2 separate regions of the Homo sapiens genome follow, and region 2 is linked to region 1. The links come from fine-mapping of genetic effects on gene expression. A gene starts in region 1. The other region holds a variant in brackets. All regions are shown on one strand. Distances are from middle to middle. Region 1 holds the start of GCHFR (GTP cyclohydrolase I feedback regulator). Region 2 overlaps RMDN3 (regulator of microtubule dynamics 3).

The links. PIP is the estimated chance that this variant, and not a neighbour inherited with it, causes the effect.
Region 2: its variant is fine-mapped to the expression of GCHFR in whole blood (TOPMed, PIP above 0.99).

Annotation. Positions count from the first base shown.
Region 1 is chr15:40,756,259-40,771,343 of GRCh38, forward strand. GCHFR (GTP cyclohydrolase I feedback regulator) reads left to right here and starts at 7,810. Exons shown (of 3, transcript NM_005258.3): 1 at 7,810-7,958; 2 at 9,569-9,663; 3 at 10,968-11,450. The coding sequence starts at 7,923. The coding sequence ends at 11,091. It overlaps DNAJC17 (DnaJ heat shock protein family (Hsp40) member C17), which reads right to left. Exons shown (of 11, transcript NM_018163.3): 11 at 8,903-11,804. The coding sequence ends at 11,682. It overlaps LOC124903474 (a long non-coding RNA gene), which reads right to left and starts at 5,010. Exons shown (of 2, transcript XR_007064599.1): 1 at 4,549-5,010; 2 at 4,216-4,468. It overlaps C15orf62 (chromosome 15 open reading frame 62), which reads left to right and starts at 13,722. Exons shown (of 1, transcript NM_001130448.3): 1 at 13,722-15,085. The coding sequence starts at 14,238. The coding sequence ends at 14,765. It also overlaps the pseudogene SUMO2P15. RefSeq lists a silencer at 7,374-7,823 and enhancers at 7,490-8,355, 9,133-9,922, 12,383-13,001, 13,620-14,238, 14,192-14,281 and 1 more.
Region 2 is chr15:40,734,884-40,748,339 of GRCh38, forward strand. It overlaps RMDN3 (regulator of microtubule dynamics 3), which reads right to left. Exons shown (of 13, transcript NM_018145.3): 5 at 10,094-10,376; 6 at 9,164-9,266; 7 at 5,250-5,310; 8 at 3,618-3,693; 9 at 3,082-3,159; 10 at 2,745-2,843; 11 at 2,405-2,458; 12 at 2,241-2,321; 13 at 1,004-1,711. The coding sequence ends at 1,658. Among named protein-coding and RNA genes, the nearest start is that of RMDN3, 14 kb to the right of the region's middle. RefSeq lists an enhancer at 5,646-6,518 and a silencer at 11,710-11,879. The variant TC/T (reference allele first, on the strand shown) is at 4,416.

The DNA.
Region 1 (15,085 bases):
GAGGTTGCAGTGAGCCGAGATCTCGCCACTGTACTCCAGCTTGGGCAACAGAGTGAGGCCTCCTCTCAAAACAAATAAACAAAAACAACAACAACAAAAAATATATTTATATATATATAAAGTATATATATATATATACACTTTATTTTGGAGGAAATAAAAATTTCCTCTGGAAACCTTCCCAGATCACCACCTTGGTGAAATTAAGCTTTTCACCCTGCTTTGCTCCTGTGGCTCTATTGCCTCCATTATACTTTTTTTTTTTTTTTAGACGGAGTTTCGCTCTTTTCGCCCATGCTGGAATGCAGTGGTGCGATCTCGGCTCACTGCAACCTCCTCCCCCGCCCCTGGGTTCAAGCAATTCTCCTGCCTCAGCCTCCGGAGTAGCTGGAATTACAGGCTTGCACCCCCACGCCTGGCTACTTTTTGTATTTTCAGTAGATACCGGATTTCTACATGTTGGTCAGGCTGGTCTCGAACTCCTCACCTCAAGTAATCTGCTTGCCTCAGTCTCCCAAAGTGCTGGGATTACAGGCGTGAGCCACCGCACCAGACCCATTACACTCTGTTCTGTGATTATTTGCTTTCTACTCTGTCTACACCACTGGACTGCCCACTCTTCCAGGATGGGGTTCACTCCTGATTCATCCCAGGTCCCCTGTGCCTGGCACAGCTCTAATGCAAAAGCATCCATAAAAGCTGAATGGAGGAAGGAAGAAAAGAAGGCGTGACCGACAGCACGCCCTGCCACTTTGACAGTGTGTTCTCAGCTGTGGCAGAAAACTCAGTGGCAGAACAATAATTTCTCCTCTCTACGGGGGGGAGGCAGCTCTGTGAGATAAACGGATTGTGATGAGAGGCTAGGCCAAATGGGCAGACCAAGCAGGGGAATTCATTTCCCCCTGGATATTAAAGATGTTATCTGGCAGGCACGTGTCTGCCAGGGCAATCAGCAGTGTGGTGGGTGGCTCTGGACAGAGCTCTTTATCTTGTGCTGCATCTGCAGACTAGCTTTGCAAATGTAATAAAGGCCTGGCTGCCTGAGATATGCACTGCCCACCTTCCCACCCCCTCCACAGCCCAGCCTGAGAAGAGAGCAGACCAGACCCCAAACTGTTGTCCTGCCCTCTGCCCAGAACATCTGCCTCATCTACCCCGGCTCTTCCAAGAGAGGTGACAAGTCAAATGCCTTGGGATGGTGGCCTTACCCTTGTGTATAATGTTTAAGGTTCTTGATGCCTTAAAAAATAATTCTTTCTCTAGGCCAGGCACGGTGGCTCCCGCCTGTAATCCCAGCACTTTAGGAGGCCTAGTTAGGTGGATCACGAGGTCAGGAGTTCAAGACCAGCCTGGCCAATATGGTGAAACCCCATCTCTACTAAAAAATACAAAAATTGGCTGGGTACGGTGGCTCATGCCTGCAATCCCAGCACTTTGGGAGGCCGAGGTGGGTGGATCATGAGGTCAGGAGTTCGAGACCAGCCTGGCCAACATGGGGAAACCCTGTCTCTTCTAAAAATACAAAAAAAAATTAGCCAGGCGTGCCATGATCTCAGCTCACTGCAACCTCTGCCTTCCAGGCTCAAAATATCCTCCCACCTCAGCCGGGGGTGGAACTACAGGCACATGCCGCCATGCCCAGCTAATTTTTTACTTTTTTTGTAGAGACAGGGTCTCCCTGTATTCCCCAGGCTGGTCTTAAACTCCTGGGCTCGGACAATCCTCCTGCCTCGGCCTCCTAAAATGCTGGGATTACAGGCATGAGCCACCATGCCCAGCCCTTTTAGAAATATATATATATAATTTTTTTTTTTGAGACAGGGTCTTGTTCTGCCATTCAGGCTGGAGTGCAGTGGCACAATCACCACTCACTGTAGCTTTGAACTCCTGGGCTCAAGCTATCCTCCTACCTCAGCCTCCCGAGGAGCTGAGACTGCTGGTGTGTGCTGCCATGCATGGCTAATTTTTCAGTAGAGACAGAGTCTCACTATGTTGTCCAAACTGGTCTCAAACTCCTGAGCTCAGGCGATCCTTCTGCCTTGGCGTTCCAAAGCACTGGGATCACGGGCATGAGCCACCATGCCCAGCCAGAAACTTTCTTTTTTGTAGAAATGGGAGTCTCACTGTGTTCCGCAGACTGGTCTCAAAATCCTGGGCTCAAGCAGTCCTCCTGCCTTGGCCTCCCCGAGTGTTGGGACTTACAGGTGTGAACCACCCAACCTAGCTCAAAAACTTTTAGTCTAATTTTGATAGATATAAGGGCTGTTTCCAGTTTTTTACTGGTTACAGTGCTGCTGTGAACATTCTTGTACATGTATCCTGATGGCTGTGAGTTTTCCTGAGGTTTATTTAGGAGAGGTTTGGCTGCGTCACAGGGTATCATTCACACCAACTTGCAAGCCCAACAGTAGTGGGATTGTTGACATCTTCACCAACACTTGATATTTACAGATTTTAACATTTTAAATTTATTTATTTATTTTATTTTTTGCTAACCTGTAAAGCACTATCTCACTGCAGATTTAAAATGTAGCTTATGGCCGGGTGCGGTGGCTCATGCCTGTAATCCCAGCATTTTGGGAGGCCGAGGCGGATGGATCACGAGGTCAGGAGATCGAGACCATCCTGGCTAACATAGTGAAACCCCATGTCTACTAAAAATACAAAACAATTAGCCGGGCGTGGTGGCGGGCGCCTGTAGTCCCAGCTACTCGGGAGGCTGAGGCAGGAGAATGGTGTGAACCCAGGAGGCAGAGCTTGCAGTGAGCCGAGATCACACTACTGCACTCCAGCCTGGGCAACAGAGCAAGACTCCGTCTCAATTAAAAAAAAAAATGTAGCTTAGGCTGGGCACAGTGGCTCATGCCTGTAATCCCAGTACTTTGGGAGGCGAAGGCAGGAGGATTGTTTGAGGCCAAGAGTTGGACACCAGCCTGGGCAACACAGTGAGACTGTCTCTACAAAAAATTAAAAAAAAAAAAATTAACTGGGGATGGTGGCATGTGGGAGGTGAGGTGGGAGGATGCCTCAAGTCCAGGAGCTCAAGGTTACAGTGAGCTTTGATCACACCACTGCACTCCAGCCTGGGTGACAGAGCAAGACCCTGTCTCTTAAAAAAAAGAAAAAAAGTAATTTAGTCTTCTGTACTCCTGGTGTTGCTTATGTGCTTGTTTGGTTGGATCTGGTACTGTTACCGCAACATGACCTCAATTCTTTTTTTTTTTTGAAATGGAATCTCACTTTGTTGCCCAGTGTGATCTGGGCTCACTGCAACCTCCACCTCCAGGGTTCAAGTGATTCTTGTGCCTTAGCCTCCCAAACAGTTGGCACTACAGGCACACGCCACCATGCCCGGCTAATTTTTCTATTTTTATTTTATTTTTTTCAGACGGAGTCTTGCTCTGTCACCCAGGCTGGAGTGTAGTGGCTTGATCTTGGCTCACTGAAATCTCCACCTCCCAGGTTCAAGCGATTCTCCTGCCTCAGCCTCCCGAGTAGCTGGGACTACAGGCACCCGCCACCAGGCCCAACTAATTTTTTGTATTTTTTAATAGAGACAGGGTTTCGCTGGGCAGAGAGCAGCTGCCCAGGCTGGTCTGAACGCCTGACCTCAAGTGATCCACCCGCTTTGGCCTCCCAAAGTGCTGGGATTACAGGCATGCGTCACTGTGCACAGCCAAATTTTTGTATTTTTAGTAGAGACGGGTCTTCATCATGTTTGCCAGGGTGGTCTCTAACTCCCAGCCTCAGGTGATATGCATGTCTTGGACTCCCAAAGTGCTGGGACTACAGGCGGGGGCCACTGCGCTGGCCCTCAGTTCTTTCAGGAAGTCCCAAAACCTGTGAAATTAACCATCCTCCCAGCTGCGCTTGCTTACAGAAACAAAGGCCAGGTGCCAATAACCAGGAACCAGCCACAAGATGAACTGAACTCAGCAGTGCTGCCTTGACCTGAGTTACTGCTTCACTGCTATACTAAAATCTCCACTCAGTGCGGAGAAATGTACCTTGCTAAGCACAAACAGTGCCAGGTGCAAAAAGAATCTACACACTCCAGCTGCTCCTGGAAGAACCCATCCAGGAATCCCTACCCCAGTCTTCACCTATCTGCCCAAAAAACCCTTAAGATCCCCCTTTACCCAATGTCCAGGGAGCAGGTGCTTTGAGCAGAAGCTCCCCTTTTCCATTCTTGACCAATGAACGTTTCTGCTCTGCTTTACTGAACCTGGTTTCATTTTATTGGTAAGAACTGCACTGGACGGGTCAAGCGACCCTCCCTTGAGGGCGGTAACAGTACCTGCTTTGTGAAGCAGCAGCTGCAGAGATTCTGGTGCTTGCCATGGCCATGGAAGCTCAAGGAAGAAGTTAAGACTGAGAACAACGATCATATTTGTTTGAAGGTGGTGTGGCAGGATAGTTCTGTGGCGCAGTTTAAGAGGCATACACTGCCTAGTAAACTGATGAGAGCCTATTGTGAATAACAGGATTTGTCAATGAGGCAGATCAGATTCGGATTTGATGGGCAGTCAATCAATGAAACAGACATACCTGCACAGTTGGTAATGGAGGATGAATACACAATTGACGTTTTCCTGCAGGAGACAGGTGTCTACTAAAAAAGGAACCTACTACTTTACTCCAAACCTCTGTTCTTACAGACCAAGATTACATCCTCAATTAGAAAACTGCAATTTGGTTCCACTACATCCCGACCAATATAGTATAGTTTTATTTCATTTTCACCTTCCCCTTTCCTTTGCTGTACATACAGTAATGGGTATGTGTGCACCAGCGTATTGCATTTGTGTTTTTGTTTGTTTTTTTGTAAAATGGCCAATGGTGTGTTCTGATTGACATCAGGTGGAGATGGGACTGGGAAAAATACTGCTTCTGTGAAAATACCCCCTTTCTCCATTCTTGGCATGCTCATTCAGCTCTTATCTTTTTTTCATATATTTATTTTAGATGAAGTCTTGCTCTGTTGCCCAGGCTGGAGTGCAGTGGTGTAATCTTGGCCCACTGCAGCCTCCGCCTGCCAGGTTCAAGCGGGACTACAGGCATGTGCTACCACATCTGACTTTTTTTTTTTTTTGAGACAGAGTCTCACTCAGTCACCCAGGCTGAAGTGCAGTGGCATGATCTCAGCTCACTGCAACCTCTGCCTCCTTGGTTCAAGCGATTCTCCTGCCTCAGCCTCCCGAGTAGCTGGGACTACAGGTGTGTGCCACCACGCCCAGCTAATTTTTGTATTTTCAGTAGGACAGGGTTTCACCATGTTAGCCAAGCTGGTCTCGAACTCCTGAACTCAAGTGATCCACCCACCTCGGCCTCCCAAAGTGCTGGGATTACAGGCATGAGCCACCGTGCCCGGCTCAGCTCTTGTCTCTATATTCCAGTGAGTTATATTTTGCTCTGTTTTAACTAAAAAATGACAACATAAAAATCCTTCCATACTTTATTCAACTGAAGAATTTTAATGTTTTTCATTTATCATTGTAAAAACCAAGGACAATTGTATAACTTAAAAAAATCCTTCTAATCAGTGGATGATTTTTGTACATAGCTTTCACATGTAGGGTAATCTGTCTTTAAGTAGGGATAAATTACTTAAAAATAAACCAAATCATGGCTCACTGCAGCCTCAACCTTCTGGGCTCAAGCGATCCTCCCACCTTGGCCTCCCAAAGTGCTTAGATTACAGGCGTGAGCCACTGTGTCTACAAAGTCTTGGGGTTTAAATAAATTTGGTTAAAATGAAAAAAAGTAAAATTGACTTTAATTTGTATTTCCTGTATTTCTAATGATATACTAGGCATCATGTTATATGTTTATTGGTCATTTCTATTTCCTCTTTTGTGAAGGGCCTATTCAAGTCAGTTACCCCTGTTTTTTCCATTGTTCATCTTTTTCTCACTGAGTTGTAGGAGCTCCTGGGCATCAATCTTTTGTTAGTTTTTTTTTTTTTTTTTTTTTTTGAGACGAAGTATTGCTCTGCCCCAGGCTGGAGTGCAGTGGCCCAACCAATCTCGGCTCACTGCAAGCTCCGCCTCCCAGGTTCACGCCATTCTCCTGCCTCAGCCTCCCGAGTAGCTGGAACTACAGGCGGCCCCCACCACGCCCGGCTAATTTTTTGTACTTTTAGTAGAGACGGGGTTTCACTGTGTTAAGCCAGGATGGTCTCGATTTCCTGACCTCGTGATCCGCCCGCCTCGGCCTCCCAAAGTTCTGGGATTAGCAGCGTGAGCCACCGCGCCCGGCCCTTTCGTCAGTTTTAACACATCCTTTGTTAAGCATGAATGTGTTTTATCTCTCTGGCTAACTTGTTAGGTCAGTGGGTAAGAGGGCAGGGGTAGGAACTACAGAATAATAAATTAGACCAGTTAAGGAACGTTTAGGATTACAACTTCCTGCTTCCCTTATAGCTCTCTCCACGTCTGTCAAAGTGTTGGAACGGCAGCATCCCCTATAAAGGCCCCTCTTAAAAAGTGAAGATTATTACCCTCCCATGGGAGGGAAGGCTACCTACAGGCTGTTTTTGTTTTGCTTTATTTTCTAGAAAACCAATCACAGGCCGGATGCGGTGGCTCACGCCTGTAATCCCAGCTCTTTGGGAGGCCAAGGCGGGTGGATCACCTGAGGTCGGGAGTTCGCCACCAGCCTGACCAAAATGGAGAAACGCCGTCTCTACTAAAAATACAAAATTAGCCGGGCGTCGTGGCGCAGGCCTGTAATCCCAGCTACTCAGGAGGCTGAGGCAGGATAATCGCTTGAACCTGGGAGGCGGAGATTGCGGTGAGCGGAGATCGCGCCATTGCGCTCCGGCCTGGACAATAAGAGCGAAACTCCATGTCCAAAAAAAAAAAAAAAAAAGAAAAGAAAAAAGAAAACCAATCACAACAAGGCAGATAAAGAAGGATGAGTTGTCAGATTTTGATAACTGCGGATGAGGGGCGTGGACACACGGTTGGGAACTCGCAGCCGCTCATTGGTGGCTGGTGCGGGGGAAGTTGTTTCATTTGCCCCAGGTGTTGCCCAGTGACCTCCTGCGCGTGCGCCGCGTCTGTCCAGCTGCGCGGGAAGCTCAGGGGAGGGAAGGCCAGGTTCCATCCATTCAGTCACTCCAGACCTGGCACCCAGCCAAGCGCGCGGTTCCTTTACAGACTTTCCTGCGGGTCCACAGAAATGCAAGGATCCGCCTCTGTGCTGGAATTAGAGTCTGGGAGGGGGAATGCACAGTGCGCCCTGGGTGGTATTTTAGTTGTCGCCTTCAGGGCTAGCTCCGAGCCTCGTGCCCCGGCCTCCTCAGCGCTTAAGGAATCTCTGGAGCGCATGTCTTGGCGAGGGGAAGTGGGGCCCCGTTGAAGCTGTCGAGGCGTCTCTGAGAGGGGTGGGCTGGGGCCTGGAGAGGCCTCCGTGAGGACGCCGTTTGCTCTGGGCTCTGCCTGGCAGGGGACTTTGGAACCTGGCCTGAAGTGTTCAAGAAGCGGGCGCGGGGGCAACACGCGCGCGGGGACGCAGTAAGATCACAGGCTGCAAAGAAAACAGCACTAAGCGTCCTGGAGGACGCTGGAGCTTCAGGATAGTGTCCTTCCAGGTCGTGGGACCGCCCCCTCCTCCCCGCACTCCACCTTCCCGCAACTGGATCACTCGGCGGAAGCCTCAGGTGGGCCCCGGGGTCCAAGTCCGCCGCCGGGAGGGCGGGGGCGGGCCCCGAACCGCCGACTGCAGGGCGCGTCACGGCAGCCGCTCCTGATTGGCGGCCACGGCGGTCACGGGCAAGGTGCCCCGGGATTGACGCCGCCTGTGGCCAGAGCCGGAGTAACGGGACTCCCAGCTGCGCGTCGCAGTCCCGACGCGAGAAGGGCTGGAGTCGGCGTCCAGCCTAGAGCCCCCGGTGGGAGCCAGGCCGGGACGCGTGCACCATGCCCTACCTGCTCATCAGCACCCAGATCCGCATGGTGAGTACCGGCCGCCTGGCGACTTGGAGCCGGGACCAGGCCCTAGGGGGCTGCGACTGCACCTTCATGCCTCCCTCCTGGGCTGCACCCACCGGGGACTGGACCGGGAACCCGCCCAGACACGCCCCCTTGGCCGGGGAGAGGGAGTGGAGAAGCGGGCTCAGCTCGGCTTCCGGGACTCAGCGAGCTCTGGCCGGCCTGAAGCCTTTATTGCCGCGAAGGGGCCCGGGTACGTGCGTCCCGGCAACAGGGCGACCTCCGGGCGCTTCCGGCTCCTGTCCTACCTGTCGGCGGGAGAGACCCAGGGAGCCCTGGCCTCACGCGCAGCACCTAGTGCCCTGCACAGAGCCGCTCCGCAGGGGAAAAAAGGGCGAATAACCTGAGAGAAAGAGGTTTGGAAAAGATAAGGACCTGCCAAGGCGCTAAAACCCCGGTGCCAAGTCCTTGACCCATAAACAGCAACTAGCTGCACCCTTAGGCACTTCCAGGAAGGGCTATCCCTGAAGCTTTAGGGAAGGAAGAAAAGAAAGAACACCCTGCTTGGAAAAAAGGAAGGCGAGAAGGGGCTGTGCAGTTAGAGGTGGGAACACCATGAGTTAGAAGTCACGTTCCTTTCTCTGGGCGCAGTTTCCTTATCTGTAAAAAGGTTCTGATTGCCCCTCAGGAGTCCCCTTTTAGCTTCAGAAAGACATGACGGGCAGCAAGGTGCTCTCTGCCCTTGCTCACTGCCCAGTGCTGGGGTGAACCAGCAAAGGGTACACAACCCCCTTGGTGGGTTCACCACGCAACAGAGAGCTCTTGCAGAGCCCTGGGCAGCGGTTTGTGAAGCAGCCATCTGCTCAGCTGCCAAAATGTGGATTCCTGGGTCCCTTCCCAGACCTCCTAAAACTCTGTCTGGGGCTTGGGAACCCATACTTGGAAATGGCCCCCCAAAGTGATTCTTATTTCTTAAAAGATATGGCTTTATTGATATGTAATGTGCATACCATAAATTCTTTGATTTAAAGTGTACAATTCAGTGTTGTTGTTTCTTTAGTGTACTCAGAGTTGTGCAACCATCACCATAATCAGTTTTAGAACATTTCTAATACCCCAAAAGGAAACCCTGTACCCACTGGCAGACACTCTTGATTTCCCCCAAGTCCCTCAGCCCTAGATAACCACTAATTACCTTTCTGTGGTAATGTGATCTGAGTCTGGCTTCTTTCATTTACATGTTTATTTTGTTTTGTTTTTTTGAAATGGAGTCTCACTCTGTCACCCAGGCTGGAGTGCAGTGGTGCAATCATGGCTCACTGCAGCCTCAAACTCCTCCCACCTCAAGCGATCCTCCCACCTCAGCCTCAGTAGCTGGAACTATAGGCTCGTGATACTTTGCCTGGCTAAAGCTGAGCTTTAAGGCACTAGGGAGGGCGCCTACATTGCTCCTCCTGATCATTGATGGGCTCCACCCCTTCACAGCTTGTGCTCAGCCCCTAAGAATCCTTGCTACTCTCTGTAGCCTTTACCTGAACCTTACTCAGGGCTAGCAGGCAGGGGAGGAAGGACAGGCAAGACCTTCCACCTCCTCCTGGCAGCCAGCCAAGCAGCCACTGTGGCTTACCTTGCAGGAGGTGGGCCCCACTATGGTGGGCGATGAACAGTCGGATCCAGAGCTGATGCAGCATCTGGGGGCTTCAAAGAGAAGAGCCTTGGGAAACAACTTGTAAGTAGCAGCCTCCCTCAGTATCCTCTCCCTGCCAGCCCCTAGACCTGCCTCTGCTCCCTTTATACAACCTCCAAGCCCAGGGACAGGGCCCAGCATCAGAGCCCCCTGCCTGCATCCTGGGGCTCTGTTCTCCGGAGGAGTTGGTCCCATCTGTAGCCTCTCCAACATCCCCCCTCTCCCCCACGAGGCTTGCTCTGAAAGCTTTCCACATCCTTACTGGAACCGCAGAAACAGAGTCCGTTCCCTGGGTCTAGGACTCCACTAGCAGACTGTTCCTTGCCCTGCCCTCTCCTAAGCTGGACCCCATCAAGGACAGACAGGCACAGAGAGAAAGGTTTTTGTCGTGAGGATCTGCATGAGTCGCAAAGCTAAGCCCTAGAAGCAGGGAGCAGGGAGCCTGCGTCCTACCTCCAGGGTGGCTGCTGCCTGGGGACCTAGCCATTTCCCTTGGCATTCTTCCTAATGCCTCCATGTCTAAACTGTGACTACTGCTTCCATTCCTCCTCTCACCCCTGGAGGCAGGGAGAACCCAAGCTACACAGGCTCTCTGAAAAGAGTTGTCAGAGTGAGTGCCAGTTCAAATCGGGGAAAGAGGAGGGCTGATCCCAGCCCCTGGGTCAAGGCTCGGGGACAGAAGCCAGCCCCCTCCCTTTGCCATGAGGCACTTGCCTCTCCATGCCCAGCTTGGGGCTTGAGCCCTTTGTCTGCTTCATGGTCTTTCAGCATCAATTAAACCTGACAGAAGGACTACCAGCACTCTCCATGCTAGGGAGTGGCGCACAGAGCCAGGAGCTACTGGGGCTCAGCCTTGTTGCTACAGAACTGCAGGACAGCCAGGGCAGTGAGGGGCCTGGAGGCTTATTTTTTTTTGAAATGGAGTCTCTGTCGCCCAGGCTGGAGTGCGGTGGTGCAATCATGGCTCACTGCAGCCTCAGCCTCCTCCTACCTGGAAGCCTGGGTGGGGAGCAAGCCCAGGGAGGGCGGCAGCAGGGCTGTGGTCAGACTAACATGGTCTACCATCTGGGACGCTGGGGAACCTGATTAACCCCTCTGTTTTCTCATCTATCAATGGCCACAACAGTGGCACCTTCACTAGCTTGTTGGGAAGAATAAATGAGATAGCTCGTGAAGTACCTAGAAGGGGAGGAGGCAGGGGGCGTGCACTTACCCCAGCGCCCAGCAAGCAGCCAGCAAGTGTGAGTCACTACAAGAGTGGCCAGGCTGCCTGCTGCAGACACTAGCTTTGTACCAGGAGCTTGCTGTGTGCCCCTCCTCACCCCCCCCATCCTGTCTCTTTGCAGTTATGAATACTACGTCGATGACCCTCCCCGCATAGTCCTGGACAAGCTGGAACGCAGGGGCTTCCGTGTGCTGAGCATGACGGGGGTGGGCCAGACGCTGGTGTGGTGTCTGCACAAGGAGTGACCTTCTCATGCTGATTTGCAGACGGGGCACCCCTGTGGAGGGGCTGCTGTGGGCCCTGACCTCCAAGCTCCTGCCTCACCGTCTGCCTTGCTCCTCTCTTCCCAAATCATCACCGCCATGGGCCCAGCCCCAAAGGGCAGTGAATGGCCTTCTCTGAAACCCTGCGTCAAGCAGTGGGAGAGGGCAGTGCCCGGTGCCCTGGTGCTCCCAGCTGCCCTCCTGCTTCGGGCCTGGGCCGAGGGCCTTGTGTAGGCCATGTTCCTCGGGCAGCTGCCCCGGGCCGGAGCTGGGCACTCCAGCGGCCCTGGCGCGTGGCTCCTGCATAGCTAGCCCAAGCCAATAAAGGGCTGTGATGAGTGGCTGCGCCTGTGCTCTGCTTGTGCACGGACTCTGGGACTCTCACCCTGCGGAGCGTTTCCCTGGGGGTCTGCCCACTTCCTGGGAGGGGCGCCAGGCCTGGGTGGAGCGCTCTGCGGCAGAGCCCAGCACCTTATACCTATGTATGGGATAGAGGTAAAATCTTAAAAAAAAAAAAAATTTATTGGTGACGTTGAAGAAAAGGGCTGAGGGGTGGATGGCTGGAGCTGGGGCTACGTAGGCGGCCCCTCCTGGTCTTCCTGCTGCATCCGTGCGATCAGCTGTTGCCGCTCGGCCGCCTGGCGCATGCGCATCATGACGAGGCTCTCGTAGTCCCTCTCTGACAGCACTGAGCCCTGTCGGACAGGGCAGGGACAGGGAGGGGTCAGGGACAGCAGGGCACAGCCTCACAGACTCCGAGTACGGTGCCGAGGCAGTGCTGCGTTCTAAGAGTCTCGGAGGGAGGACGGCAGAGGAAGGGAAGGAACCCGGAGCATCCTTTTGGAATCCTGGCTCGCCTGTGTCCCCCAGAACACGCCACCTTTGGCCTCCAGGCCGGCTTCTACCCAGCCAGCTCCCCCTCCCTTTCCCCAGGCCGCGTCAGCTCCGGTCCATCTGTTTCTCAGGAATCACCTGCGGGCCCTCTAAGCCAGGCCCTCGTCTCCCTTCATTTCCTCTGGGCCCTTTACCCTTCACCCCTTTCCCTCTACCCCGTAGCTTCTGCCTCTTAGGTTCCCAAGGAAGGGAAGTTGTCTGAGGAGCAGGGATGCACTTGGCTCTGCTGGGCACTGACCCTGGCACTCTCTATGCCCGGTGCCCTGTGGTCTGGCTCTTGCTGAGGATGCAGAAGGGAGCCCTACCCGAGGCAGCCCGGAATGCCCCACCCTCGAAGGGGAAAAAGGCAAGCATGAGGCCAGCGTGCCTCTAAAACTACACACCAGGGCTCCTGGAGGGCAGGGCCCATAATCAAAAGAATAATAAACAACCATCTGAATGGGCCAAGGCTGTAGGGTGGAGAAGCAGCTCTACAGCGGGACCTAAGCTGCCAACCCACGCCCTGATAAGGTCTGCGGTGGGAATTAAACCTTTTCCTCCCTCGGTGCCGCTTAGGCTGTGTGATGATCATGTGGTCCCAACAGCTTCTCAGAGAAGTGTGAAGCACACCTGAGTTGGCACAGAAGTGAGCTAGGCCAGGGATTGCAAGATGCGGTGGCCTGCCCGTAGCAGAGAGCTGTGGGGCCCTGATCCGCGGTACCCCGCATGGGGACGCTGTCACAGAGCAAGGCAGGAGGAAAATGTGGTGGTCAGTGACCCGGGGAATAGGAAGGGAGCAGCTAGGGTTGAGATGCCAGGCCCTGGCCAGCAGGTTTGGAGTAAGGGGTGTAGAGAAACAGGAAGTGTTACTCAGCCTGGGTTCCCCTGTTCCTCCCGATGGCTGCACCCCTCCCCTCTCCCCGGCTGCAGCAGTCCCAGCTAGGCCGGACTGCTAAGCCTGGCCCAGAGCACGGCTGACAATTCACGGCAGCCTCCCTGGCCCAGCCTCCTGCAAGAGAAGGAGGACCCCAGAGGAAGCCCGGTAGCCAGAGGGGAAGGGCTGGAGCACAGCCAGGTAGGAGGCAACACGGCCCGGCCTTCAGCAGCCGCTCTCCTGGCAGGAGCCCTCTAGGGTAAAACAAGGGAGGACAAGGAAATAGCAGCCAGGCTGATGGCAGGCCAAGAGGAGGCCACATCTCCCATCCCCAGGTTAATGCTGCTCTGCCAAGAAAACTTGGAGCCACCCTTGGCGGGCCCCCAGCCCAACCCTGGGCAGCAGAGCCCGCCCATCACAGGCATGGCGCTGCTCCCCATTAACACACCCTCTGCCCCCCTTCCTGTTCCTGCTCGTGAGGGCCTGACAGCGGGGCTGAGTCACCCATACCAGCTACAGGTCTCTTCCTTCCCCAACAATCGTTCCACACGCCTGCCTTTCAATTAACTCCCACCCGCCCCGAACTCTTCCTACCCAGACACTGTGGGCAGGGAGCCAGGCGCACCTGCTGGGGGCCCAGGGTGGTGGGGCTGTGATCAGAAAGGAAGCCGCGTGGTGACACATAAAGCAGGGCTGCCCCCACACGAGTCCCCAGAGGAATCTTAAGCTCCCCATTGCCCTGGGGTGTTGGTCCCAGCTGCCCCATCCCTGCACGCGGATGCTGCAATTACCCAAGAGCACGAAACCTGGCTTCCCACCTGACTGAGTCAGCTGAGAACAAAAACACATCTCCACCGCCACAAACAGCCAGGCCACTCATCAGAGTCCGGGAGCCACTGGCAGAGAGGGCACGGCCCCACACTGCCCCAGAGACATATAGGAGCCAGGCAAACACCAGGGCGAGTGAGCTCGGGCCATCTGCTGCCTGCCTGTGGAAGGAGCGCTCGCCAGCCTCACCCAGCCCGAGAAGGTCCACCTCTGCCTCCGCCGGAGCTGCCCTCATTCTGGCTCCAGTAAGTGCTGCTTCTTCCTCCTGGGTTTTTTTCCACTACCCTATTCAGTAACCAGGCCACTCCTGTCCCTGTGGGAAACTCTTGCTGCCAGGAACTCCCAGCTGTCTGCTCTCCTGGGCAAAAAAGTTCCTTCTTCCTGAGCCCTCCTCTCACCATCCAAGATGTGGTCAAAGGTCTGTGCTGAGTGGAAACCCTGAGGCCTCTGCTCCTAGGGGAGCCTCCCCAGCTGCTGGCACTCACTGCCCCAGCAGGGACCACATGCACCCTGGCTGCTCCTGAACACCTGTCTGCTGGCTCCCCTGGGCCCCATGGAGACCTGGCGGAAAGGCTCCTTCCGCAACGCCTCCTTCTTCAAGCAGCTGAGCCTGGGGCGGCCACGGCGGCTCCGGCGACAGAGTAGTGTGCTTAGCCAGGCCAGCACAGCAGGTGGGGACCACGAGGAGTACAGCAACCGAGAAGTCATCCGGGAGCTACAAGGGAGGCCAGATGGCCGGCGCCTGCCACTGTGGGGGGACGAGCAGCCCCGGGCCACCCTGCTGGCCCCACCCAAGCCCCCACGCCTCTACCGAGAGAGCTCAAGCTGCCCCAACATCCTGGAGCCCCCACCTGCCTACACAGCAGCCTACTCTGCCACCCTGCCATCGGCGCTCTCTCTGTCGAGTGCCCTCCACCAGCACTCAGAGAAGGGCCTTGTGGACACTCCCTGCTTCCAGAGGACACCTACCCCAGACCTCAGTGATCCCTTCCTCTCCTTCAAAGTGGACCTGGGGATTTCACTTCTTGAGGAAGTTCTGCAGATGCTAAGGGAGCAGTTTCCTAGCGAGCCCAGCTTCTAAATGGGGTGAGGGTGGGCAAAGCCGGGGTGACTGGAAGATCCAGAGGCTGGGGATTAAGGAAAGGACAGGGACAGGACTCCAGGCCCATCGCTGGAGGGTTCAGGCAGGCAGAGCTTCTTCATCCTGGGGGAGGATTCCAGGATAGGAATCCAGGGCTCTGCCTGCTCTCTGGGTCCTGGACAGTCCTTCCAGGCACCCCAGAGTGGAGGGACAGAGGCAATCTGGAAATGTTGGGGGGGCGGCCCTTCCTGGCAGGACCCTGAAGAAAGCTGGCTATGCCGGGAAAGGGAGGCTGTGCCGGGAAAGGGAGGCTCTGTGCG
Region 2 (13,456 bases), 22 kb before region 1:
TTTTAGACCAAAAAAGAATGTTTTATTATTAGAATTGAGTATATCTCAGGTCCTCTTTCATTACTACAACACAAAATAAATCTGGGGGCCAGGAACGGTGGCTCACACCTGTAATCCCAGCACTTTGGGAGGCTGAGGCAGGTGGATTGCCTGAGATCAGGAGTTCCAGACCAGTCTGGCCAACATGGTGAAACCCCGTCTCTACTAAAAATACAAAAAAAATTAGCTGGGCGTGGTGATATGCCCCTGTAATCCCAGCTACTTGGGAGGCTGAGGCAGGGGAATTGCTTGAATCAAGGAGGTGGAGGTTGCAATGAGCCAAGATCGCGCCACTGCACTCCAGCCTGGGTGACAAAGCGAGACTCCAGCAAAAAAAAAAAAAATCTGGGTTGGTATAATAAAGACACAGTGACATTCTAGATTAAGGGGTTGGTTCTTATATGAAAGCATCTCAATCTTTTTTTTGAGACAGAGGTTTGCTCTTGTTGCCCAGGCTAGAGCGCAAGGGTGTGATCTCAGCTCACTGCAACCCCTGCCTCCCAGGCTCAAGTGATTCTCTTGCTGTAGCCTCTCTAGTAGCTGAGATTACAGGCGTGCGCCACCATACCGAGCTAATTTTTTCTGTCTGTATTTTTAGTAGAGATGGGGGTTTCACCATGTTGGCCAGGCTGGTCTCAAACCCTTGGCCTCAAGTGATCCACCCGCCTTGGCCTCCCAGAGTGCTAGGATTACAAGCAACAAGCATGAGCTACCACGCTCGGCCTATGCATCTCAGTCTTAAATTTTCTTCTAGGTGGATTTAGGGGTTTGTGCTCGTGGCCCTAAAAATGAACATGAGAAAGGCAGGGAGTACCTGCTTAGTTGCAATAGGCCTTGTTTAGGCTAAAAATAAGCTCGATACCTGTATTTTATATACTGTAAAGAGCATTAACCATAACCTGCCTGCAACAGCCTCTGTAGGTAGAAACAATTATGGAGGTGTCAAGTAAGAATAAAGAGCTGATAACATCAAATTTGGTTTATTTCAAGTTTGTAACAAAATATATTCTAGGCAACTTTTCAGACATTGTTTTATAGCATCATAAACCCCATACCACTGCTGTCATTCCAAAAGCTGCCAGGACACTGGAAGTTATCAAGTGGTCCAGCCCAGGAATACAGGTAGAATTCACATGATAGGTGATAAGAAAGCAATGTCTGTGGGCCACTCTGATCCCTCTTTTTACCTTGGTAGGTAAGGTATGATCTTAAGACTATATGTACTGAGTCCTATTAGTCAGTGAAAAAGATTAAAGTGACAAGTTATGTGCTTTGTTCCTATAGCTTTGAAGTTCATCCACCTCACCAGCAATTGGAAGGTCTCAGGTCTTGCAGGCTCTACCCATGTGTAATCCTGGGGCAGGTGTGAATCTTGATTTTTTTAAGAGATTACTCAAGGGAGAGAACAACAGAAACGGAAGCCATGAGTACTGCCCCAATTCTAGATTAGGTTAGAGGTTAGAATAAATTAACTAATGGGGAGTGGTAGTGGGTAGCAGTCAGACCCAGGAGACAGATTTGTGTGGTTTCCTGATCTCAGCAAGGTCTAAGGAAAAAAGCCTCCCCGCCCCCCCACCTTAAATAGTGGCATCAAGTCATGAAGGCCAGTGAAACGTGGTTAGTCTCGTAAAATGACTTCCAGTTCTTCCAGGTCCTTCTGGATAGCCAAATCCTAGGGAGACAAAGAACAAATCTAGGGCTCAAAATTTAAACCAGCATTTTCCCAAACCAGTGGAACCTAAGAAGAGGGGCCCTTTGCTTCCTTCCTGAGCTCTGCTACAGTCTTTTTCCTACTTCCCCAGGATAGCCTGGAGCCTATTAAATCTGTCTCTTCCCCTAGAGGTAGACTCTTTTTTACTAGGGAAATAAGACCTCTAGGAAAGATTATTTTCTAAAAATGTCACATGATGATTCAGTGATGACAGGCAGTTTTGTTTGGTTTTTTTTTGAGATGGAGTTTTGCTCTTGTTGCCGAGGCTGGAGTGCAATGGCACGATCTGAGCTCACTGCAACCTCCACCTCCCGGATTCAAGCGATTCTCCAGCCTCAGCTTCCCGAGTAGCTGGAATTATAGGCGTGCGCCACTAGGCCCAACTAATTTTGTAATTTTAGTAGAGATGGGGTTTCTCCATGTTGGTCAGGCTGTCTCGAACTCCCGACTTCAGGTGATCTGCCCAACAGGCAGTATTAAAAAGCCTTACCTCCTTCGTGACATCTGGCAGCTCCAGGGCCAACTTCATCCACCATCTAGCTTCAGAGTTTTTCCCTAGTTCTCTGTAGCACTGAAAAGAGACAACAGTGAAACCTGATACTGTGTACTTTCAGGAGTTCCCAGATCTATGTTGAAGTAGACAAATGAGTTTACCTTGGAAATATATACCCTTCCTGCTTTGGAAAATCCTGGCTGTAGTTCTTCAGCCTGGGAAAAGGGACAAAGATATTTCAGTAAGAGGTTCCTATATTCTAATCAGGCTGAAGTTTATTAAACTAGATTTCTAGTCCCCAACCATGTGGCTGATTCAGTGGGTCTGAAGAAACCTATATTTTTGATAAGCTGTGCAAGTGATTCTGGTTTTCCCATAGAACAGGCAAACACAAAATTGCCCCCGACTAGGAAAACCCCTCCCATTAAGGGTCTCAATAATGTCCTTAGGAAAAAACAAGGTTACCCTGGTGTTTTTGCCTGCCACCTGCCCCTCTCATACCTTTAGGAAGCTCTGGAGGGCATCTTCCACAGTGGCACTGAGAGGGCTTTCAAGCAAGGCTGTAGCAGTTTTTTTTTCTAGCCAGCTCAGGTGAGAGACCTGCCACAAAAAGATCAAGGTGTGTATAAGAGGTTTTAAAAGGTTTTTTTTCTTTAAATCTTTGGGGATATATTGAAAATAGGGTCAAACGGGGCTGGGTCGAACCACCAATAATACGAGCATTCAGAAGAAAGGGCACCTGAGCCAGAGAAGGCTGAGGATCTTGTTCTTCCTGGCAAGGAAATCGGTGTCAGAAGGCATTTAGGACCATTATGTCAAGCACTGAAACGCAGCTTACCTGATAGCACCACCTGCCAAGAAGAAAGTGAGCCATGGGGTTTTCTGGCTGGAGAGCAATGGCTTTGTCCACATGCTCCTAAGGGGAAAATGTAAATATAAACTAACATCAGACACCAGAGTTGCTAAAAGAGAGGCAAGGGCCGGATGCAGTGGCTCATGCCTGTAATCCCTGCACTTTGGGAAGCTGAGGCAGGTGGATCACCTGAGGTCAGGAGTTCGAAACCAGTCCTGGCCAACATGGTGAAACCCCATCTGTGCTAAAGATACAAAAATTAGCCGGGCATGGTGGTACATGCCTGTAATCCCAGCTACTTGGGAGGCTGAGGCAGGAGAATCGCTTGAACCCAGGAGGTTGCAGTGAGCCAAGATCACACCACTGCACTCCAGCTTGGGCGATAGAGTGAGACTCTGTCTCAAAAAAAAAGAAGAAAGGCAAGTCACTGAGGCTGTAGAAAAGTTTTTGGCAGGGAGCTGGAAAGGAGTGGGGAATCTGGGATAGGCCAGCACAAGGAAGGAGGAAAAGCCTGTCCTCACCTTGAAGCTAAAGCCACTCTGGATGCGCCTCTGGATGCTCTCATGCTCAGCCAGCTGACCACAAAGCACCGCATACCTAGGGGGGAAGCAGCAAGCTCAGGGACAAGGGCTGAGTACCATCACTGCAAGGAATGGATGCCCCAACCACAGCCTAGTTGCATTGTCCCCTATCCCTGTACCCTCAACTAGAGCTGAAAATACCTAATTTTCATCTGTACGTAATCCCCATTCTTTACGGACCTCTGGCCCCAATTAGTATTCTTTAGTAGATAATGGTAGGCTTACAAGTCTCCAAAGTATTCTAGGTATAAAAAAAGCTGGGTTCACCACAGTAAATCTCTCTTACACAGTAAATCTCTCCTACACTCATAAGGAGTACAGCCACAGGCATTAATAAAAACTTGAAAAGCATGAAAACAATCAGCATAAAAGTATGAGACCTGACTATACTACTTATCTTCTGGGCAGACAAAAAAGTGGGTCTCATTAGCCTTTAAGCATACAGGTGTATCACTGGGACTTGGGAAGCAATTTCTTAGGATAGTCACATTGGGAGGGGATATTCTAGGAATTTCTGATGTTACTTGGAAACCAACAGAACCAGAGGAAGAAAGACCTCCTATATATGCCTTCTCCCCCACATCCCCCCTCCCAAAGGGAACCAGCCAGCCAGCTTCCCATCATCTGTCTTCAGAAACAAAGTCTTACTTCCCCATCCCCCCAGCATTGTTCCTAGCAGCACAGTTGACATTCGATGAGTAACCAGCCCAAGTTGCTTTTTCATGTATATGCTAAGTA[TC/T]CGGGGGGTATCAGATACTTCTAGAGGCTCATTTCCATGTTTAATCCAAACAGCTGTTCCTCAGGAATAGCTGTTCATCCTTGGAAGCCCAGGGAAGCAGTGACACCCAAGAAACAGTTACCTGGCCTCTGAGAAGAACCCTTGCAGAGACAAAAGTTTCAGCAACAGATGGAGAAACACAGCCTCTCACTTAGCTCACAGTCTGAGGGTGGAGACATGGAAAGCAAGGGTGGCGGTGGGAAAGGAAAGGAACATTTTCACTAAAACTCAGGTGCTGGAACCAGACCCCAGGATATGAGTTAGCCGTGGCCCAGGTAAGCTGACAGAACTTTGCCTCACATGAGACCACAAAAAGGGCTGATGTTTTTGCAGCCTAATAAATTGACCACTAAACTTCTGGGGGGTGAGCTCACATCTACTTTTCCTCACATGAACCAAGCAAAGAAGCCAAAGTACCAGCAGCCAGGGATCACACGCAGGGGAAAGAAGAGCTTATGCAGGATAGGGGAGCTGCAGATTGTCCCAGCCTCCTGAGAGCCAAGAACTCCAGTTTTGTAGCTAGGATGACTCTTAACAAAGCTACTCATTTCTCCAAGCCCCATCAGAAAAAAAGCTTGTATTCCCCGCTTGCCTCATCCCTAAGCCACCTCCCCTACCAGAAACTTCCCTTGTCTCTGGCTAGGGGTAGACTGAGGCATGTGGAGATACAAGCCAGAACTCCCTCTCCTGGATCCTTTGGAAAATGCCTCTGTGGCCCAGGCAGAGAAAAGAAAGGGCTGTCCTCTGCTTTGGCCCTTGCTGGCTCTTCCCAGAACACTGCAGGGTGTTATTACCACAGGTGACAGTCAGCACTCTCATCCCCCTTCTCCAGAGCAGCCTCTGCTTCTTCTTTTCCTGTAGGACGAAGGTAGATCCAGAGTTGACATAGCTCTTATGCACACTTTCATAGGAAGGCTTGTGGGAAGAATGACTGCTTTAGCTCTCACCAATCCCTACCCAGCTTGGACTTGTTTGGAAATAGTTGTGAACTTGAGCAGAATGAAAGGCCGCAAAGAAGCCAGTCACAGTGGCTCACGCCTCTGTGCTGTGTAATCCCAGCACTTTGGGAGGCTGAGGCGGGTAGAGCGCCTGAGGTCAGGAGTCGGAGACCAGCCTGGCCAACACAGTGAAACCCCATCTCTACCAAAAATACAAAAATTAGCTGGGCGTGGTGGCAGGCGCCTGTAGTCCCAGCTACTCAAAAGGCTGAGGCAGGAGAATCGCTTGAACCCAGGAGGCAGAGGTTGCAGTGAGCCGAGATTGCACCACTGCACTCCAGACTAGGTGACAGAGCAAGACTGTCTCAGAAAAGGCTGCAAACGGCTTCTAAGGGAAGACTTCAGGGATGACTTCTGCTTCACCTTGGCTTCCCCATCTGTCATTAGAAACCCCAGTTACCTTCTTTTTATAATGCCCACCTGATGTGCTTGAAGCAGATTTTAGCATTTAAAATATAAAAGGATCCAGCCAGGCACGATGGCTTATGCCTGTAATCCTAGCACTTTGGAAGGCCGAGGTGGGTGGATCACTTGAGGCCAAGTGTTTGAGACAAGCCTGAGCAACATGGTGAAACCCTGCCTCTACTAAAAATATAAAATTAGCCAGGCATGTTGGCACATCCTGTAGTCCCAGCTCCCCAGGAGGCTGAGGCAGGAGAATCACTTGAACCTGGGAGGCAGAAGTTGCAACGAGCCAAGATTGCACCACTGCACTCCAGCCTGGGCGACGAACTCCACCTCAAAAAAAACAACAACAACGGATCCAACACAATCAGAAATTGTCCCCAACAGACCTTACTCTGGAGGGGCAGTGTCCATGAATCTCAAGTTGTATAAAATTTAAGTAAGTGGGGAGAGAGATCACAGCTTTGAAAAAATTCCCTAAAGGGGATGGGTACATTGGCTCACACCTGTAATCCTAGAACTTTGAGAGGCCAAGGAGAGGATAGCTTGGGACCAAGAGTTCAAGACCAATCTGGGCAACATAGGCAGACCCCATCTCTTTAAAAAAAAAAATTCTCAAAAGGATCCACGATCCAACAATATTAATTAGCTCTAGGCCAAAACTCTTTCACAAGAGCCACATGGACTGAGGTCTGACCAGAGATGACGTTCACTTAGTCTTACCCGAGTTTTCTAGGTTAGTGTTCTAACAAAGAAATGAAAGCCCATAAACATGAAAGTTCTGACAAGCGTCACTTAAGAGTATCGAGGCTGGAGCTTACGGACCACCAGATAAGGACCATCATGCCTATGCACTGGAGAAGACACTGCAACATAGGATTTTTTTTTTTTTTTTTTTTTTTTTTGAGACAAGAGTCTCACTCTGTCGTCCAGGCTGGAGTGCAATAGCACGATCTAGGCTCACCGCAACCTCCGCCTCCAGGTTCAAGTGATTCTCCTGCGTCAGCCTCCCGAGTAGCTGGGATTACAGGTGTGTGCCACCACACCTGGCTAATTTTTGTATTTTTAGTAGAGACAGTTTTGCCTTGTTGGCCAGGCTGGTCTCAAACTCCTGACCTCAGGTGATGCGCCCACCTCAGCCTCCCAAAGTGCTGTGATTACAGGTGCGAACCACCGTGCCCAGCCAAGAATTCTTTGAAGAAAACAAGTTTGGAAGGGAACATGGAGAAAATGGAACAAATGTAATGCATTGAGGTGGTAAACTGGCTAATCTGAAATGTTTTCCTTTTTTTATTTGAGACAGGGTCTCTCTCTGTTGCCCAGGCTGGAGTGCAGTGGTGCAATCTCAGTTCACTACAACCTCTGCCTCCTGGGCTGAAACAATCCTCCTGCTGGCATGTTCCACCACCATGCCTGGCTAATTTTTTAAGTTTTTTTTTTTTTTTTTGTAGAGACAAGGTCTCACTATATTGCCCAGGCTAGTCTCTAACTCCTGGGCTCAAGCAATCCTCCTGCCTTGGCCTCCCAAAGTGCTAGGATTATAGGCATGAGCCACCACACCTGGCCACAAATGCATTCTTAAGACAACTGATGCTGTGAAAGACTCTACCTCTCTTCCCAAAGAGAGGGACCACATGGCCCCACCAATGAGGGACGCTGCCTCTTTGGGGATTTCTCTCTGCCCTCTTCAAAGTACTGTCTCACTAGGAAAATAATAGCAAAGAATGAGACAACTAGTTCCTGCCAAGCTAGACAGACAGTGTTGTAGACAAGACATTGCCTGAGACCCCACAGAATGACTGCCTCCTGGTGGTCCAGCTCCTAGAGATACAATGAAATAAACTTTATACCCAGTAAGGATAATTCTTAAAGGCTGTGATCTCAGAGCAGAACCTTCAAAGACATTCCATAGTCATCTGACCTCCAGCAGGTAAAGCTTTGTCCATGGGTGCTAAGCTCAGGAGGCCAGACCAACCAAGTGCTGCCCTGCTAACCACTGCCTCCACTTCTGTCTTTGGGGTTCATGCTGGCTACTAGCACTAATAAGAGATGACCAATGATCAAGAGGGAAAGGAAAGGTTGTTGACATGAAGAGTCCAAAAATCAGCCCAAAAGCTGAGAATCCTCATCTGAAATTTAGGAGGGAAAACAAACTTTTGGAGAGAAAAAGTAATCATAAATAAGCATCTTTTGTTAAAACTTCCAGGAATTTTTCTGAGGGTCTACAGAGACATCCTACTCAATTGGTCTGTTCTTTCTCCATTGACAGAATTCTACAAATGTTTAGAATGTTAACTTTGAGGTACTGTTTGAGTATACATTATCAAGGATTCAATAATATTTGTAAGGCTGTACTTACAATAGAAAGGTAGACAAATCCATTTTAGACAGTTAACTGGCCAGGCACAGTGGTTTATGCCTGTTATCCCAGCACTTTGGGAGGCCTAGGTGGGTGAATCAGTTGAGGCCAGGAGTTCAAGACCAGCCTAGCCAACATGGCGAAACCCCATCTCTGCTAAAAATACAAGACTTAGTCGGGTATGATGGCATGTGCTTGTAATCCCAGCTACTGGGGAGGCTGAGGCAGGAGAATTGCTTGAGCCCAGGAGGTGGAGGTTGCAGTCAGCCGAGATCAGGCCACTGAACTCCAGCCTGGGCAACAGAGAAAGACTGTTTAAAAAAAAAAAAAAAATAGATATTAACTGAACCACAGACCTAGAAACCCATTACCCATTGATGGTACCTGACTCAGTGTGTGGAGTTCAGCAGGACACATCAGTCTCTAAAGTCCAAGCATTCTCTGACCTCATGACAGATAAGGCCAAGCCCTGAGCCTGGCACAGGTCAGATGCACCCTATCCTCCAGGGTGGAGCCTTTGCCAACAGACTTGCCAAGTGGATTCCAGAGTCTTCTAAGCTAGCTATATTCTTAGAACACCTGCCCCACCAGCTCAGAAAACTGAAACCAGATTTCTAAGCAGCAGCAAAAAACCTCAGGTTAAGAAAAAAGGTTTTGCCCTCTGTGGCTAGAGTGAGAAAAACGAATAACATTGATAGGATACAACTACTCCTAGAAACACATGCACGTGTGTTACTAATCAGCATGATATACAGATAAGCAAAGACTGCTCTCTTCTTCCAGAGGAGAAAGCAAGGGTCTTTGGGAGCCAGAGTTTGTCCCTAGTGGGTAACTGAGCCACAACTGCTGACAGCATCTTGGTGGTTCCCCGGGTCCCCAGGCAGATGGGCCAGCCCCACCCCTGAATCAGTCAGTCACCTTCCCACAGGAAGCTGTCAGCACTTACCATCTAGGGCATATGACTTCTTCTCGCTCACCTCCTCAGTGAGCTCACACATGTCACTGTAGGCTCGGGCCAGGCGCCAGAGAAAGTCCTGCCGGCTTCCATACTGCAGACCAGACAGAAACGGGTGAGGCCCCTTTTTCCTCAACTGTGGAGAATGGGGGCCTTGGCCTTCCCCCACACCCTAGGTTTGAATTTCCAAGCTAGTATGTTACAGTCATCAATATCAGGCCAGCTCCTACACGCAGCCTTCCCCCCAGTCATCCCTTCCCACGTGCAGTTAATGTATGACACATTCTCTGTCTAGCCAGTAGCTTGCACAATTACGGGGTGAGGGCATTCTGACCTCCTAGAACTGCTGGGAGGAAAGGTCAACTCCAAGATGTCATAAGGCACGAGAGGTCTTTTGCTGACACATGAAGAAAGTGTGAAAGGAAAAGGGAAACTTCTAACTTCTGGGGGGGGGGCATTTATACCTGGGTGGGCATATATTCTGTCAGTGAACCTGACAAGAGAATTATGGTTGAGTGACCTACACAGTTGTCGCTTGTAATGGGGCTGGCAGCTTGGACTCTGCCTCAAGGGAAATGAGGAGAAAAAAAAAATACAGTTCTTTCCACATTTCCCCCTAGAGGTGAGAGGTAGAGCTCTTTCTGCAGTAGCTCTACAGAAAGCAGAGAACTACACTCCCCCTCCCAAGAGGGGAGGCAGCTCTGGGGCAAGCAGTACACTGGCCCTAGGATCCACGCTGGGCCTCCTTGGAAGAGGATATGTGACCTGGGGGACAGATGCAAAACCAGCTGTCTCACCATTTCTCGTCCCATGTCACCTTGTAGGGGCAGTAACCACACGGGCCTTCATTCCCCAGGGGTCAGGAACAGAGAGATGGAGGGAGGGAGGGAAGGAGAAGGAGACAGGCAGCTGGAGCCTCACCACCAGCTTGTTGTTGAGCAGCAGCTGGAAGCCCTCCCGCTTGCCTTGCTCATCACCCCTGTGCAGCTCGTCGGCCTGCTGCAGGAGGGGCAGCACATCCTCCAAGCCTGAGGAACCTCCAGCCTCCAGGGCACTGGAGGCACCTGAAGCTGCCTCTTCCTCCAAGTCAAGAGAATCCTTTCTCCCCATCTTCACAGTCTCACAGCTCACTTCATCTTCCCCGTCCTCACTTTCTTTGTCAGAGTCCCGCTCATTGTCAGACTCCGCATTGGCTGTTGTGTAACTGGCAGAGAAATGTAAGGGACAACAAGAGGATTATTCAGCTCAGAGCCCCTAGGGTCTGTCTATCCCTCACCCCCAAAGAAGCACTCTACATGGCATTGTCCAAAGCACCAAATCACAATCATTCATACCTCTTAAGGGCAGACTTTTTTTCTTTTTTTTTTTTTTTTTTGAGACAGGGTCCCGCTCTGTCACCCAGACTGGAGTGCAGTGGTTCGATCTTGGCTCACTCAAACCTCCACCTCCTGGGGTCAAGCAATTCTCCCACCTAATTTTTTTGTATTTTTAGTAGAGACGGGGTTTTGCCATGTTGCCCAGACTGGTCTCAAACCCCTGGCCTCAAGTGATCCGCCCACCTCGGCCTCCCAAAGTGCTGGGATTACAGGCATGAGCCACCATGCCCAGCAGAAATCATTATTTGAGAGAAAGTTTCCTATGGGAACTAAGGGCTGGGAAAATGATCCAGGAAGGAAAGAGCAGACAACCAGCTGAGGCCCTGTGACAGTTAAGGCAAATGTGAGAAGTCCCTGCTCGTTTTTGCCTTATCAGTCAGAGACACTTGCCACAACCAACATGGGTGGGTGCAGCCTCAGGCCATGGGCAGCCACACACACATCCACAAACTCGCAACCTCTGGCCCAAGTCAACAACCAAACCTAAACCGCAACAGGAGTAGCCCATAGTAACCTTGAGAACTTAAGGGTGTGAGGAGAGGTGATAGGAACCACTTTGCAGCCAGAAGCAAGAAGGGGAAGACAATGCAAACTACCCCCTGAAAAGGTGTTTGGGGGGCTGCCATATGCCAGGTGGCTCCTAAGGAGCCCCAACCCTGATGCACCCACTAAAGAGGAAGCTGAGTTTCTCTTGGATCTCAGCCACCAGCAGCTGATTAGGGTGTTTTCCCTAAATGCCTAAAATAGATAAGGACTGAGCAGGGGAAAAGGTAGGACTTCTGGGGGTCAGAAGCAAACACAAGGCTGGGGGCGGTGGCTCACGCCTGTAATCCCAGCACTTTGGGAGGCCGAGGCGGGCGGATCAGGAGGTCAGGAGATCAAGACCATCCTGGCTAACACGGTGAAACCCTGTCTCTACTAAAAAATACAAAAAATTAGCCAGGCATGGTGGCAGGTGCCTGTAGTCCCAGCTACTCGGGAGGCTGAGGCAGAAGAATGGGCGTGAACCCGGGAGGCAGAGCTTGCAGTGAGCGGAGATCACACCACTGCACTCCACCCTGGGCGACAGAGCAAGACTCCGTCTCAAAAAAAAAAAAAAAAAAGAATAGGCTCCCTGTGGCTGGAGCAAAACAGGACTGAAGGAGAGATGACACACCACCTACAAATAAAGTCAACAACTGACAGCCTAATGTCAGGGCAGAAGTGCTGTCCTGCCCAGAAAACCAGAAACCACAAGGTGGCAGGCTCTGAAGGCTCTGGAAGTGAGCAGCCAGACCTGGTACCCAGTCCGTGCTGACTGCATCCTTACAGAGGAGCTTCAGCCTCATCTAAAAAAGAGGCCCCAGACACATCTACTACAAGAACTTGTAAGGTATTTAAAACCTTTCCTAACTGCACCTTTGTTTTTTAAGAGGTTATCCAAGTAGATTTCCCCTTTAGTTATTAGAAAAAAAAAAAAACACCTTTAGAAATCAAAGGGACAAGGATAAGTGTCATTAGATTTCGTAACCAACCTGGGTACTGATGAGGGAGACCACCCACAGGCAACCTAGAGAATGAAACTCCCAACTGCACCTGCCAGATTGAGAAAAATCAAACCAGAGTCTCCTCTGCCCAGCCAGGCCCAAATGCAAAATGGGTAGATGGTTTATCTGGAACGGGAAGCTGGAATTGCATCATCTCCCTTTGCTAGAAGGAGGGGGAGACCCTATTTCTTGCTGAGTTGAGGGCTGCCTCAGCCAATCAGGAGTCCAAAGAGGAGTCTCTCTGCCTCCAGCACTCCCAGGGAGGGACCTAGCCCTGCTGGAGCCCAGGCATCAGCACAGAATCCCCTGGGACCTGAGCTGCGATGCTGCCATCCCTCTGGATCCTAAAGGCCCAGCTCACAAAGCCAAGAAGAGAGGTCAGGGAGCCTTGCTGCCACAAACAGAGTGAAAGATGGTAGAGCCCTGTGAGGCAGGGAGGCTCCAGGGAAGCTGGCATAGAAAGTAGACTTTAATTGCATCTCAGCCCCACTTTAAGGAACCCTCAACAATCTGAAACCCTACTGCCTGAGGCAGCTTCTGGGGCCTCAGAAGAGATTAATCACATGCCAAGGGCTACCACATTTACACCATTCTCTCTCACTTTCCACCTCCCAGACTAACCCAGCCAGCCTTTGGAGAAATCTACCAGAGAGGAGTGACCCTTTTAACATACCCTGAGGCTTTTGAGATCTGCCAGAGACGAGCAGGGACCTTTGAAAAGGCCCTTTGGTCCTGTGCACTCCGGAGGACAGGAGTTCCCACAGTGGGCCAGAGACCCAAGGCTCCCTCTGAGCAGAGACTGCCACTCTACTCTTAAGCAGTAATGAAGGACTCAGTTACACACATCTCTCCTCCTGGCAATTAAGTTTCTCTTAACCTAAACCATGTTAGAGACTGAGTATGAGGCCTTCAAAGATAACCAGGCACATGGACCCTGACCTTGAGATAAGACCCAACTTAATGAGGTCATAAATGCCCAAGAAGGAGTCTTCACGATGAGGCTGCAGGCAATTTCTCTTGGCTGAGATGCCTGGGAAGGCTTGCTGGAGGAGCTGGTATTTTAGGGCAAGTTGGGTTCTGACAGAGGGAACTCAAGCTGTGTTTGGTACAATGCCCGGGGAACAAGCTCACAGAGCTGCACAGTGATTCTGCCTCTGCCACCCTCAATCTCCTGAGACCTCAAAGTTGTTATTTGGAAGAAGGAAGGAATACAGCTTTCAGTGAAATCAAGCAGCCCATCAAATCTCAGCCCTTCATCCCTCAAAGCAGCTCTCCTTGCCCCAAGACACACATGTTCAAAGCCATTTCAGAGTTTGTAGACTCCTAGAGCTCCCCCCTTGACCTACATGGCAATGACCATGGCACAAAGAATCATTCACCAC